3 linked regions of the Homo sapiens genome follow. The protein of the gene in region 2 interacts with the protein of the main gene of each other region in a biochemical or structural test. Each region holds a gene or a part of one and is shown on either strand. Other genes may lie near its edges.

What was found.
Region 1: the proteins of COPA (region 2) and COPE form a complex in vitro, tested with the Homo sapiens proteins (3 studies listed by BioGRID, with this or other methods).
Region 3: the proteins of COPA (region 2) and COPB2 form a complex in vitro, tested with the Homo sapiens proteins (one study listed by BioGRID).

Annotation. Positions count from the first base shown.
Region 1 is NC_000019.10:18,898,884-18,902,405, forward strand, and holds the end of COPE (coatomer subunit epsilon), read right to left. Parts: intron 1,567-3,522; coding exon 1,498-1,566; intron 1,065-1,497; coding exon 990-1,064; intron 844-989; coding exon 796-843; 3' UTR 631-795; downstream 1-630. UniProt on the Homo sapiens protein: The coatomer is a cytosolic protein complex that binds to dilysine motifs and reversibly associates with Golgi non-clathrin-coated vesicles, which further mediate biosynthetic protein transport from the ER, via the Golgi up to the trans Golgi network.
Region 2 is NC_000001.11:160,294,615-160,298,362, forward strand, and holds part of COPA (coatomer subunit alpha), read right to left. Parts: intron 3,132-3,748; coding exon 2,942-3,131; intron 2,825-2,941; coding exon 2,729-2,824; intron 1,536-2,728; coding exon 1,447-1,535; intron 1,246-1,446; coding exon 1,122-1,245; intron 244-1,121; coding exon 154-243; intron 1-153. UniProt on the Homo sapiens protein: The coatomer is a cytosolic protein complex that binds to dilysine motifs and reversibly associates with Golgi non-clathrin-coated vesicles, which further mediate biosynthetic protein transport from the ER, via the Golgi up to the trans Golgi network.
Region 3 is NC_000003.12:139,387,496-139,391,243, reverse strand, and holds the start of COPB2 (coatomer subunit beta'), read left to right. Parts: upstream 1-1,596; 5' UTR 1,597-1,693; coding exon 1,694-1,696; exon of another isoform or gene 1,697-1,775; intron 1,776-2,879; exon of another isoform or gene 2,880-2,965; intron 2,966-3,748. UniProt on the Homo sapiens protein: The coatomer is a cytosolic protein complex that binds to dilysine motifs and reversibly associates with Golgi non-clathrin-coated vesicles, which further mediate biosynthetic protein transport from the ER, via the Golgi up to the trans Golgi network.

The sequences.
Region 1 (3,522 bases), on a different chromosome or scaffold from region 2:
TGCCTGTCCCCCTAGAACCTAGCCTGGCAGCTCCTTTTTGTTGTTCGGGTGGGCACAGCTCAATGGTGACATCTGGGAGGCTCCGGCCAGCCCTGCTGCCACCCACCCACCTCCCTCCCTAAATGGTGCGGCCGCCTCTCATCGCGGCTGGGTGCTTGGCCCCAGGACCCTGCCACAGCAGGACTCTGCCTTGGAGGAGGGTTTGCGGGGCGGCAGGAGCAGCACCTGGGGTTAACGCTGACCCTGCAGGGCCCCTCCGGCTTTGCTGAGCTGAGGCCTGAGTTTTTCCTGCCCTGGCCCCCACTTCCTCCAGGCCACTAGGGGTTCTCATTTTGAATCTTGGTGCCCCTCATGATAGCGGCATGACTTCTCTGTGCCTCAGTTTCCCCCGATGCCAACCAGGGCTGCTCAGTGGCCTCTAGGGGCCAGGGTGAAGCATGGGGACAGGGCTGTGCTGCCTCTGGCCTGCAGGAGCAGGTTGTGGCTGTGTGAGGGGCGGGGTGGGGGTCTGCACACCTGCTGCTCGTCACAGACCCTGGTCTCCAGGAACAGCCCTGGATGCCAGTGCCCCAGGACTCTCCCTGAGCGTCAGCTCCCACACGCCCCCAGCAAAGTGACCAGAGCACATCATCAGGTGGAACACCCTGGAGTTGAGATATTTATTAACAGATGGGGGTGCTGGGGGTGGGCTCCTGCCCCCAGAGGGGATGCAGGTGGATGCCGGGTGGGGAGGGCTGCAGGGCTGGCTCCTGGCCTCTGTCCTGGCTTCATGGTCCTGACAGCTCTGGGCCAGCCTCAGGCGCTGGGAGCGTACTGTAGCACCAGCCTGTCAAAGTCGTTCTCCTTTAGCAAGACACATGGCAACACAGGGTGGGGGCAGGGTGTGGGGAGACAGGTGGAGGGAGAGAGAGAGGGCGCATGTGAGCCCAGGCTGAGCTCCAGGCGCCCCCTGGCCTGGTTCTCGGGGACAGGCCATCCCCACCACTCACCTTGGCCTGGTACTCCTTGATGAAGGGATGGGACCTGTGGGCATCCTTCAGCTGGGACAGGTATCGGTTTGTCACCTGCAGGGGAGGCAGGGAGGCAGGTGAGCCGAACACGGGGACCCCACGGTGGCTCTGACCTGCTGGACAGGGGTGGATTGGGGTGAGAGCCACAGTACCCCAGGGGGCTCCTCACCCTGCCTTGGGACTGGGCTGATCTCGGAGAACCTTCAGGGTGGGGGTGGAGGGATGGGCCTGCCCCCTGGAGAGGCGCTGGCATGGAGCTGGCCTCCGTACATGGTGGGGGATGTATTGTGGTGTTCAGGGGAGCAGGTCGGGCAGGGCCCCAGGTGAGGATGGGTTGGGGGGCACAGGGTTTGTGAGGGAGGTGGGCTGCGGTAGGCATACTGTATACAGAGTTTTCCCAGGGGCCTAGGGATTAGGGCCTGGACCCCAGGCTGGGGTCCCAGGGTCTGGACATTAGGGTTGGCCTGGAGCCCTGGGGGCCGCTTACCTCAGGGGGCTTGCCCAGGTGCTGGGACAGGACGATGAGGTTGACCAGCGTCTCTGGGTAGCCACTATCCTGGAGACACAGGCAGACACGGGGAGGCAGGGTCAGCCACTCCAGCCCCCATGCCTGCCCGTCACCCCCACCTCAGGCAGCACCACACAAGGTCACCTCCTCAGAGGTGGGGTGGGACTGACACCGCCCACCGCTCTGCAAGGTGGAGATCTCAGATGATACGGTGCCAAGGGGCCAGCCGCCTCGCTGAGCCTCAGTTTCCCCATCTGTAGTCCAGCCTGGGGTACGACCCCTTGTTTACAGAGACTTGGGAAGGTTGTATTTGTCCCACACATCTCAAAGCCATGGGGCCCAGACCCAGATGGCCTCAACTCCTGCTGTACAACGAACCCCGAGGCCATGGGCAGACCTGCCACCCCTGCACCAGCTCCCAAGGAGCCTTGAAGGAGACCTCGGCAGGGGACCTTGCCTGACTCACTCACTCTAGGCTCCCAGCACACAGGACCCTAGGAAACATCTAGGCCAGGAGACCCAGCCAGAGCCCTGGTGTCTGCTTGGAGCACAGACACACCAACGAGGATGCGCCCAGAGCCCGACCTGCCCACGGCGGCCCATGGCAGGGCACCTTTTTGCAGACCGGACTTTTCTGAGCCTCAGTCTCCACCATGAAGGGGGACACCAGCTTGCGCTCACAGGAGCAGCCATGAGGTGGCTCCAAAGGGAAGTGGGGGGACCTGAGTGCCTCCCAAAACCCAGCAAGAATGCAGGGTGACCACAGCCACGGGGAGGCCACCAGGGCCAAGGGGCACGGCCAGCCAGCCCCAGGTGGTGTTTCAAGAGACAAGGACAGAAGGGAGTCATCTAACTGGTGAGTCACGGAACGTGTCACCTGAGAGGTGTAACAAAAGCCCCCAGAGGATGCGGCCATGAACACAACATGCATCCAAGTGTTCTCAGGTGGCAGGGAGGGGCAGGGTGGTGGAGGAGGGCGCCAGTCTTGCCCCTGGGGCAGCGAGGGACACACAGCCTGTCTGAGATTGCACATCAGGCTGGGAGTTCCTGACTAGCCCTGACTGCTCAGAGCTAAAGATGGACCCTGCTCAGGAGGAGCAGTACCCGGCCTGTGATGGGGCCAGCCTGATACCCCTTGGCCAGCCCCGCTCTGCAAACAACTTTCTGATGATAACTCAGCCCCTGGAAAGTCAGACAGGGAGGAGGGCTTCACCAGTGTTTGTCACTAGATTAAAACTGTTTCTCAGCTGGGCGCACTGGCGCATGTCTATCATCCCAGCACTTTAGAAGGCCAAGGAGGGTGAGAATTGTTTGAGCCCAGGAGTTCAAGACTAACCTGGACAACACAGTGAGACCCCATTTCTAACAAAAAATACAAAAATTAGCCACGCATGGTGGCATACCGTTTCAAAAAACAAACAAAAAACCCCCCAAAATTCGTTTCTCCAAAATGGAAAAAGCTTTGATGTCCTTTCTGATTATAAAAATAATAATCCAGGCTGGGCACAGTGGCTCACGCCTGTAATCCAGTACTTTGGGAGTCCAAGGTGGGCAGCATCATGAGGTCAGGAGATTGAGACCATCCTGGCTAACACAGCAAAACCCCATCTCTACTAAAAATACAAAAAATTAGCTGGGCATGGTGGTGGGCGCCTGTAGTCCCAGCTACTCGGGAGGCTGAGGCAGGAGAATGGCATGAACCCAGGAGGCAGAGCTTGCAGTGAGCCGAGATCACACCACTGCACTCCAGCCTGGGCGACAGAGCAAGACTCCATCTCAAAAAAAAAAAAAAAAAAAATCCACCAAGCATGGTGGCTCACACCTATAATCCTAATGCTTTGGGAGGCTGAGGTGGGACGATCACTTGAGGCCAGGAGTTCGAGACCAACCTGGGCAACACAGCAAGAACAACCCCGTCTTTACAAAATATATATATATTTTTAATTTAACATAACATAAACTCTTCATAAAGACTGCAGATGGCCAGGCGTGGTGGCTCACGCC
Region 2 (3,748 bases):
AAAACAGATTTGGGCAGTGGCATAATCTTAGCCAAAGGAAGTAAAATCAATCCTAGTTCGTTTCATGGCCTGGAAGTCTGCAGAGCTACCCACAACCCAGTCCCAATCCAAGGTGTCCATCACCCCAGAACAGTCTTAAAACAGCACTTTTACCTTCATCCAACTGCAGCTCTGCATCCTCTCCCCAGCCCTCTGTACCAACAGTGTCAATGTCAATGTCAGCAGCCAGTGCTCCTCCCTTCCCTACAGAGGGAAGGAACAGAACGGAACTGGTTATAGTCCAGCAAGTCTGAGATACGGCCTTTTCTGTAGGCAGGTTAAATCCTTTCAAAAACAGGTGCCAAGCTTCTGCCTACTTACTATTTATTTTTGTGTATTATTTATTTTTGTGGTATATATGTTATGCTAACTTGCAGTAGCTTTCACAGAGGGAGGGAATAGAAGACAGATGGAAGGAACTGGCCTTCCTGCTACCAAAAACTGGCTCTTAAATAATTTGTACTTACCAGCCTTTGGCTACCAACTCTTGAATTTCTTCCTGAGCGCTTTGCTAAGCTACCACCACTACAATGTGTACAGGGCATCAGGCATAGGGTAGATAGAGGAGGTGGAGAAAAGAGTGGGGTTTGGCACAAAATGCTCAAGAGTCTGTTTAGGCTCTTACTCACGGGAAATGAACTAGGAGACCCAGAAAACAGGAGGAGGTTAAGGGTGGAAGTGGTGGAGGGTGATAGCACACATCTGCCTATACCCACATACCGGAATTACAGGTAGTTGAATTAGTACCTTTAAGATTGTATGTCATGAATGATAAAATACTGAACAAAGAACATGACTACATATATAGTAAAACCTAAGAAAATACACCAAAATATTAACCGAAGTTATTGATGGTAGTAGAGGGATCCCTTTTTTTCTCCCTATTTTCCAAATTTTCTTTAATGACCTGAAAATGCTATCTTAAGTTTTTAAGACTGCACCATAAATGACTGGCATTTCAATATTCCATTAGGCTCCATGCAGAAAAAAAGGACAAGTTAAACTAAATGCTAATGGTATTCTCTAGGACAGTTCTTCACAAAACAAACAACAAAAGTGCTATGGGAGAAATAGGTACTTACCTTTGCTGGCAATGGTGCCTTCAAAAAATCCTTTGGATACAGTCAATAAAGGCCAATTGGTATCCAATGGCATGATAGGTGCAGGTGGCTGGAGCAGCTTGGCATTAGGGTCAATGTCTGGGATCTGAATAGTAGAAGAAAAGAGGCTAAAAACAAATAGCACTTGGAAGTCACGTAAGGAAAGTTATGGAGCCTCCTTTGATCTCATTTGTTTCTCTGCCTCTCCTGGTAACCAGGTGGGAGAGTGACATTCATAATTTTAAATTGTTCTAAGATCCTAGAGTTAATCCTGTAATAAGAGACAATTATGTAAATAAAGACTCACTGTCTCCTTCTCTGGGTCAAATGTCTCCTTTAGGCTCTCAGCTTCTTCATCTAAGCCATGGGTAGCAGCTGTGAGATAGGCCAGGGACTCTGTAGAGAAAACAGACTTTGTGGTATAGGTACATTTCCAAATGCATGCTGCTGTGGTAAGCAACCTCTGAAATGGCCCCCCAGTAATCCCTGACTCCTGGTATTCAAGTTGTTGCAAAATACCCACCTCTTAAGTGTGGGCTGGATTTATTAAATAGCTTCTAATGGATGGAACATGGCAGATGTGATGGGATGTTACTTCCTAGATCTGGTTACAAAGATTGTGGCTTCTATCTTGGGGTGCCCTCTTTTGCTCACTTGCTGTAAGGGAAACTAGCTACCACGTTACAAACTCCTATGGAGAGGTCAACACGAAAAGAAAGTGATGTTTCTTAGACAACAGGGAGCAAGGACATGGGGGCTGCCAATGGCCATTGAGTGAGTGCAGAAGTAGATTCTCTCCCCGGTGAGTCTTCAGATATCTGCAGTTCTGGCCAACACTTTGACTGTAGCCTCATGAGAGATCCTAAGCCGGAGGCACCTAGCTAAGCCATGCCACAAATTGTGAAATAATAAATGTTTGTGGTTTTAAACTACTAAATTTGGGGATAATTTGTTACACAGAAATAGAGAACTAATATAGCTGCTTATCTTTGAGACGTATCCATCCGTGCTGAGAACCTTGGATATCCCTGACTCCTCTCTGTTACATCTCAAATCTAGTTACCGCAATAAATCATGTTGTTTCTACCTTAAAATATATCCTGAATCTGACCACTGCTCACCCCTCCACTAATAGCGCCTTGGTCCAAACCTCATCTTTCACCTTGCTTGTTTCCTAATGTATCTTAAATGCTAATATAATGCTTGGTATATAGTGGGTTCTCAAAAAATATCCCTTGACTATATACATGAATAAATGAGTGAAACCTCCAAACTGAAAATAAAGAATAAAATTCTAATGGCATCCAACCAAGTGCATTTACTAGGGCGTCCACTCAAGACCTTTTAAAACCTCCTATCTCCCCCATGAATAACTATTCTCCTAAGGGTGTTTGGCTGGACTGAATATTCTGGCTGCACCTCCCTTTGGCTTTGAAGAAAATCTTCTAAGCACAGTAGGAGCATGTTGTCTCTCCTAAAAAAATGCACAATAAAGAGAAATCCCTCACCACTATACACAGATTAACTCAACAAAAACAGAAAAATACTTCCTCAGACCCTGAAAAAGCTGGCAAGTCTCGGATACTTACTCTGTCCACAGTTCTTCAGGATCCGCACACGCTCTGACACATCACCCAGGTATAGGGCATTCTGATAGTGGCCACTCATGTCCTTTCTGATCTCAGCTGCACCAAGTAAGAGACACCAAGTTAGGTCTTTTCTCTTAAGTTCTCTTTCTCCTTAATTCACCTTCCTCCTTCCCCCAAGAACCCCTCTTCCCATCCTTAGTTTGAGGGCCTCACCAATCTTCATCATCTTGCGAAGTTTTTCTAAGTTGCCAGTGATAAGATACAGGAAGGAAAGTTTGTCAAAGTTTTTGGTACGCTGATAGCACATTTCCACAATCTGGTGGTTCCCCTGCAGCAGGGCCACTTCTCCCAGCTTTTCCCAGCAGTTCTTGTCATCCAGTGCTTTGGCTGCTTCCAGAGCAATCTAAAGAATCCCCAGGGTCGTGTTAACAGGTTGAAGGACAATGTGACTCAAAACCAAGGACTCTGCAAAGCATCTGCATCTATATAGATTTCCTGAAGAACTTCCTATACTTTCAATTACTCCTAGCTTTTAGTCTAATTCCATTGAAAATCGGCTGGGTGCGGTGGCTCACATCTGTAATCCCAGCACTTTGGGAGGCCAAGGCAGGCGGATCCCGAGGTCAAGAGCTCGAGACCATCCTGGCCAACATGGTGAAACCCTGTCTCTACTAAAAATACAAAAAAAATTAGCTGGGAATCATGGTGCACGCCTGTAGTCCCACCTACTCGGGAAGCTGAGGCAGGAGAATCGCTTGGACCCAGGAGGCGGAGGTTGCAGTGAGCCGAGATCATGCCATTGCACTCCAGCCTGGGCAACAAGAGCGAGACTCCGCCTCAAAAAAAAGAAAAAAAAAAAAAGAAAATCCAGTGAACACATAGGACCCCTTTGGATACAGAGATGGAAATAATTACATCGCATTATCCTCCTCCTCCTCCTCAGAAATTTACTTTTACAACAAAACCACCTAGCAGTTGCTGATTCCATAGAGCCAGTTCTTGCTTAGCTACCTTACTTCC
Region 3 (3,748 bases), on a different chromosome or scaffold from region 2:
TTTTCCACTATTGAATGCCACAGAAACATAAAAAAAAAAAAAATGGAAGGATCTTTAGAAACCATGTAGCTGGATTTTTTTTAAGATGATGAAAACTGAGGCCCATGAAGAGAGTCACATTAGCTCAAGGCTCCTACTAAAGCCAAATAATTTCGTGCAAAATCATCTCCCTCTGATTATCATTATCTACACACACAAATACATAATTTTTCTTTTTGCCTTTCTGAAAATCTGGAGGTCTGAAAAGACTTTAAGATTTCTCTCAAGTTAAAAATACACGTTTGTACGTGTAACCAGAGGGCAAGTTTTCTATGGTCCACATGTTTTCTTAAAAAAAAAAAAAAAAAGGAAATACAGGAGATGTGCAGTGCGTGTGACAGGCAAATGTTCTCGAACTTTATTGTGTAGTGTAACCCCTATGGCACAGGCCCTTAGAATTCAGCCACATTAATGAAGAGATATTTTTATGTAGTAGAAAGAGCACAAACTTTGAGGTGTTTTGTTTTGAGACAGAGTCTTGCTCTGTTGCCCAGGCTGGAGTGCAGTGGCGCGATCTCAGCTCACTGCAACCTCCACCTCCTGGGTTCTAAGCGATTCTCCTGTCAGCCTCTGGAACAGCTTGGATTACAGGCGCCCGCCACCACGCCAGGCTAATTTTGTATTTTTAATAGAGACGGGGTTTCACCATGTTGGCCAGGCTGGTCTCGAACTCCTGACCTCAGGTGATCCACCCGTTTCGGCCTCCCAAAGTGCTGGGATTACAGGCGTGAGCCACCGCGCCCGGCCCAACTTTGAGGTTTTATCTGCCACTTACTATGCAGTCTTGGCTAGAACACTTAACTTCTTTGAGCCCGAGTTTCCTCATCATTAAATGGAGATAATTCAGGTTTGATGTGAAGATTTGAGAAGAAGGTATGTCTGACACACTGCCGAAGATCGATAAATATTTGTTGAATGAATAACACAGCCAGCCGAAGCTCAACAAAAGACACATACACAAACACACCCACACGGTTGGGTAGTTGCCGTCTCCCGGGGAGCTCCAGAAGTGTAAGCTCTCAGCCCTCCCTCTGACTTCAGAAGCCTGAAGCTACTAAGCCCGCAGCCCGGTGCGTCTCTTCGCAGCCTTAATCAGTGCCCGGGCAAAGGCCTGCAGAGAATTCTCTGGGCCTCGCACCAGGCCCCAAGAACACACTGGAGACTCGTTTCGCCTTCTCCCTCGCCGTTTCCCCCCTCCAGGGCCAGAGTCCGAGGAAGCCCGATAGCGGTTCTCGGCCTCCGAAACACAACTACAACACTGGGGAGCTTGCCCTGCAGTTAGCGTCCAGCGGGGATTAGGCACTTCGTTTTCCTCATCGTTTCAATCTCTATCTTCTGGTCGGGGTCCAAGCTCAGCGGCACCACGTCACGGCCCTTAGTGGTCTAGGCCACACCCCTCCTTCCCGACAGCCTCAAGTCCACTACCAGCGGTCTGGAAGGCCACGTTGCCTAGGAAACTGGGGCGGGGCTTGGGAAACGACGGCCCTGCGCGCAGTTTGCGCAGGCGCTCCGGCCCTGGCCTCTGACTATCGCGAGAATCGGCTCCCGGAAGTTCCACGTCAGTCAGTCTGACGGTCAGTGGATCGGTGGGTTTATCTCAAGGCCTGAGTAGCCGGTAACAAACGAGGGTTCCCGGGATTGGACCGACGCAGCCATGGTAGGTCCAGATCCCGTAGAAGGGAGCGGGGTCCCATAGGTTACGGCCGATTCCTGGAGCTTCTGGACTGAGGGCCGCGGTAAGCAGTGGTCTGGGCTCCCGCTGCGGCCGCCGCCTCAGGCCTTGCGGGGTCTTGGTCGTTTGATTCCAGGAAGGGAGAAGGCGGTGGGGCCTAGGGGACCGGGGTGATTTGGGGAGGCAAAGCCTGCTAGTGAGGGGTTTTGTCTCCCCTGGCGCTTGTGGCGCTTGCCAGAGCTCCTGCAGTCTGCAGCGGGATCGGTGGTGTAGGGAAACACAGAAGCCGAATGTGTTGAACTCCGTAGGAGGCTTTGGTAAAACTAAAGTTTGCCTTTAAAACGGTGGTAGTTAATCTACACTCCTGTTGGGCTTATTCTGGGGATAGTGTGTGCTGGCTACAAACTATAAACAAGCAAAGAAGCCAAAAACAAATGTATATGGAGTCAAAAATGGAATTTCAAATGCTTTGATATCTCAGCTGTTAGGTTTCTAAGGGGAGAAGAAGGGTTGGGAGGAAGGGGGTGCTGTTTATAACACTGGCTGGTGTGCTTTTATGCATTTGCAAATCCAGTGGCTGGTAAGAATAGTAATTGTTAGAGCACTTTGTTATTATCACCGTAACCCTAAAAAACGCCCTAGACTAGTTTGCACAAGAGTGTTATAATAATAAGGAAAGAAAACGATAGTATAAGAATATCTTCCGTCTCTATTGAAAATGCAAAAAAAAAAAAAAGAAATTAGCCGGGCGTGGTGGCGGGCCCCTGTAGTCCCAGCTACTCAGGAGGCTGAGGCAGGAGAATCGCTTGAACCCGGGAGGCAGAGGCTGCAGTGAGCCGAGGTCGCACCACTGCACTCCAGCCTGGGACAGAGCAAGACTCCGTCTCAAAAAAAAAAAAAAAAAAACTTGTTATGAAGCACAGAATCAAACATTTTGGAGCTTGAAGACGCTAGGGATTAAGTCCCTCATCTTAAGTTAAAAAATTTTTTTAAATTATGTTTCTACAAGGTTAATTGTGGCAAAGTTGGAACTAGGAAAAAGTTAGGAATACTCCCAGGGAAAATGCACAGAGAAACAAACATTTTTGCATAAAATTCAGTGCATTCATTCACAGACACCCCCCCCCACAATCCATGGACCTTCTTTTTTTTTTTAATTTGTTTTATAAAAAATATGGAACGCTTCACGGATTTGCGTGTCATACTTGCGCAGGGGCCACGCTAATCTCCTCTCTATGTGCTGCCGAAGCTAGCACTATCCGTGGACTTTCTTGGGCACCCAGGTTACAGTCCCTGAACAAGACCTCAAGCCTCTTAATTAGAGCACTTCGTATTACTAACTACCTGATGTAGTTTGGGTCTGCTGTGGTTGCAGTAATGGACGTTTTTGGAAAAGGCTCTTGGATCTGCCTAATTTCATTTTCTTTTGCCGTCTTTACATTTACCAGTGTATTTCTATAATGAAATATTGCCTTCATTCTTTATATATTTTAAATCCTTTGTGGAAAATACAAAACGTGAATTCATTCATTTGTACATTTACCATAGAATATTTAGTGTCTGCCATGCACTTTGCTAAACATGGCTGCCTAATTCTCACAGCAGCTGGGAGATAGAGTTATATGTTTGTGAAGTGGTTACTGTAGGTCAGGCACTGCTCTAACTGGCTAACTCTGAATTTAATTCTTACAGCACTAAGAGGTAGATAATAATAATATTCCTGTTTTACATAAGTCAAACTTGAAAGAGGTTAAGTAAATTTGCCCACTATTGCACATCTGAAATGAGTGGTGGAACTGAAATTTAAATCCATCATGGCTTTCTAGTCTTGTGTTATGGTATCTGTTCTTAAACCCCCATACTCAAATATATAAGGTGATCTGGAGATAAAGACATGTATAAGCAATGACCCTGGCTTTAAGGAGGATCTACTCTAGAAAGCAAGAAAAGATGTGTACACAAGTGTACCATGAACAGTTAAAATGAAATCCTATAGGATTCCCTAGGAAAGAATGCTTCAGGCTAGGGTAACTAGAA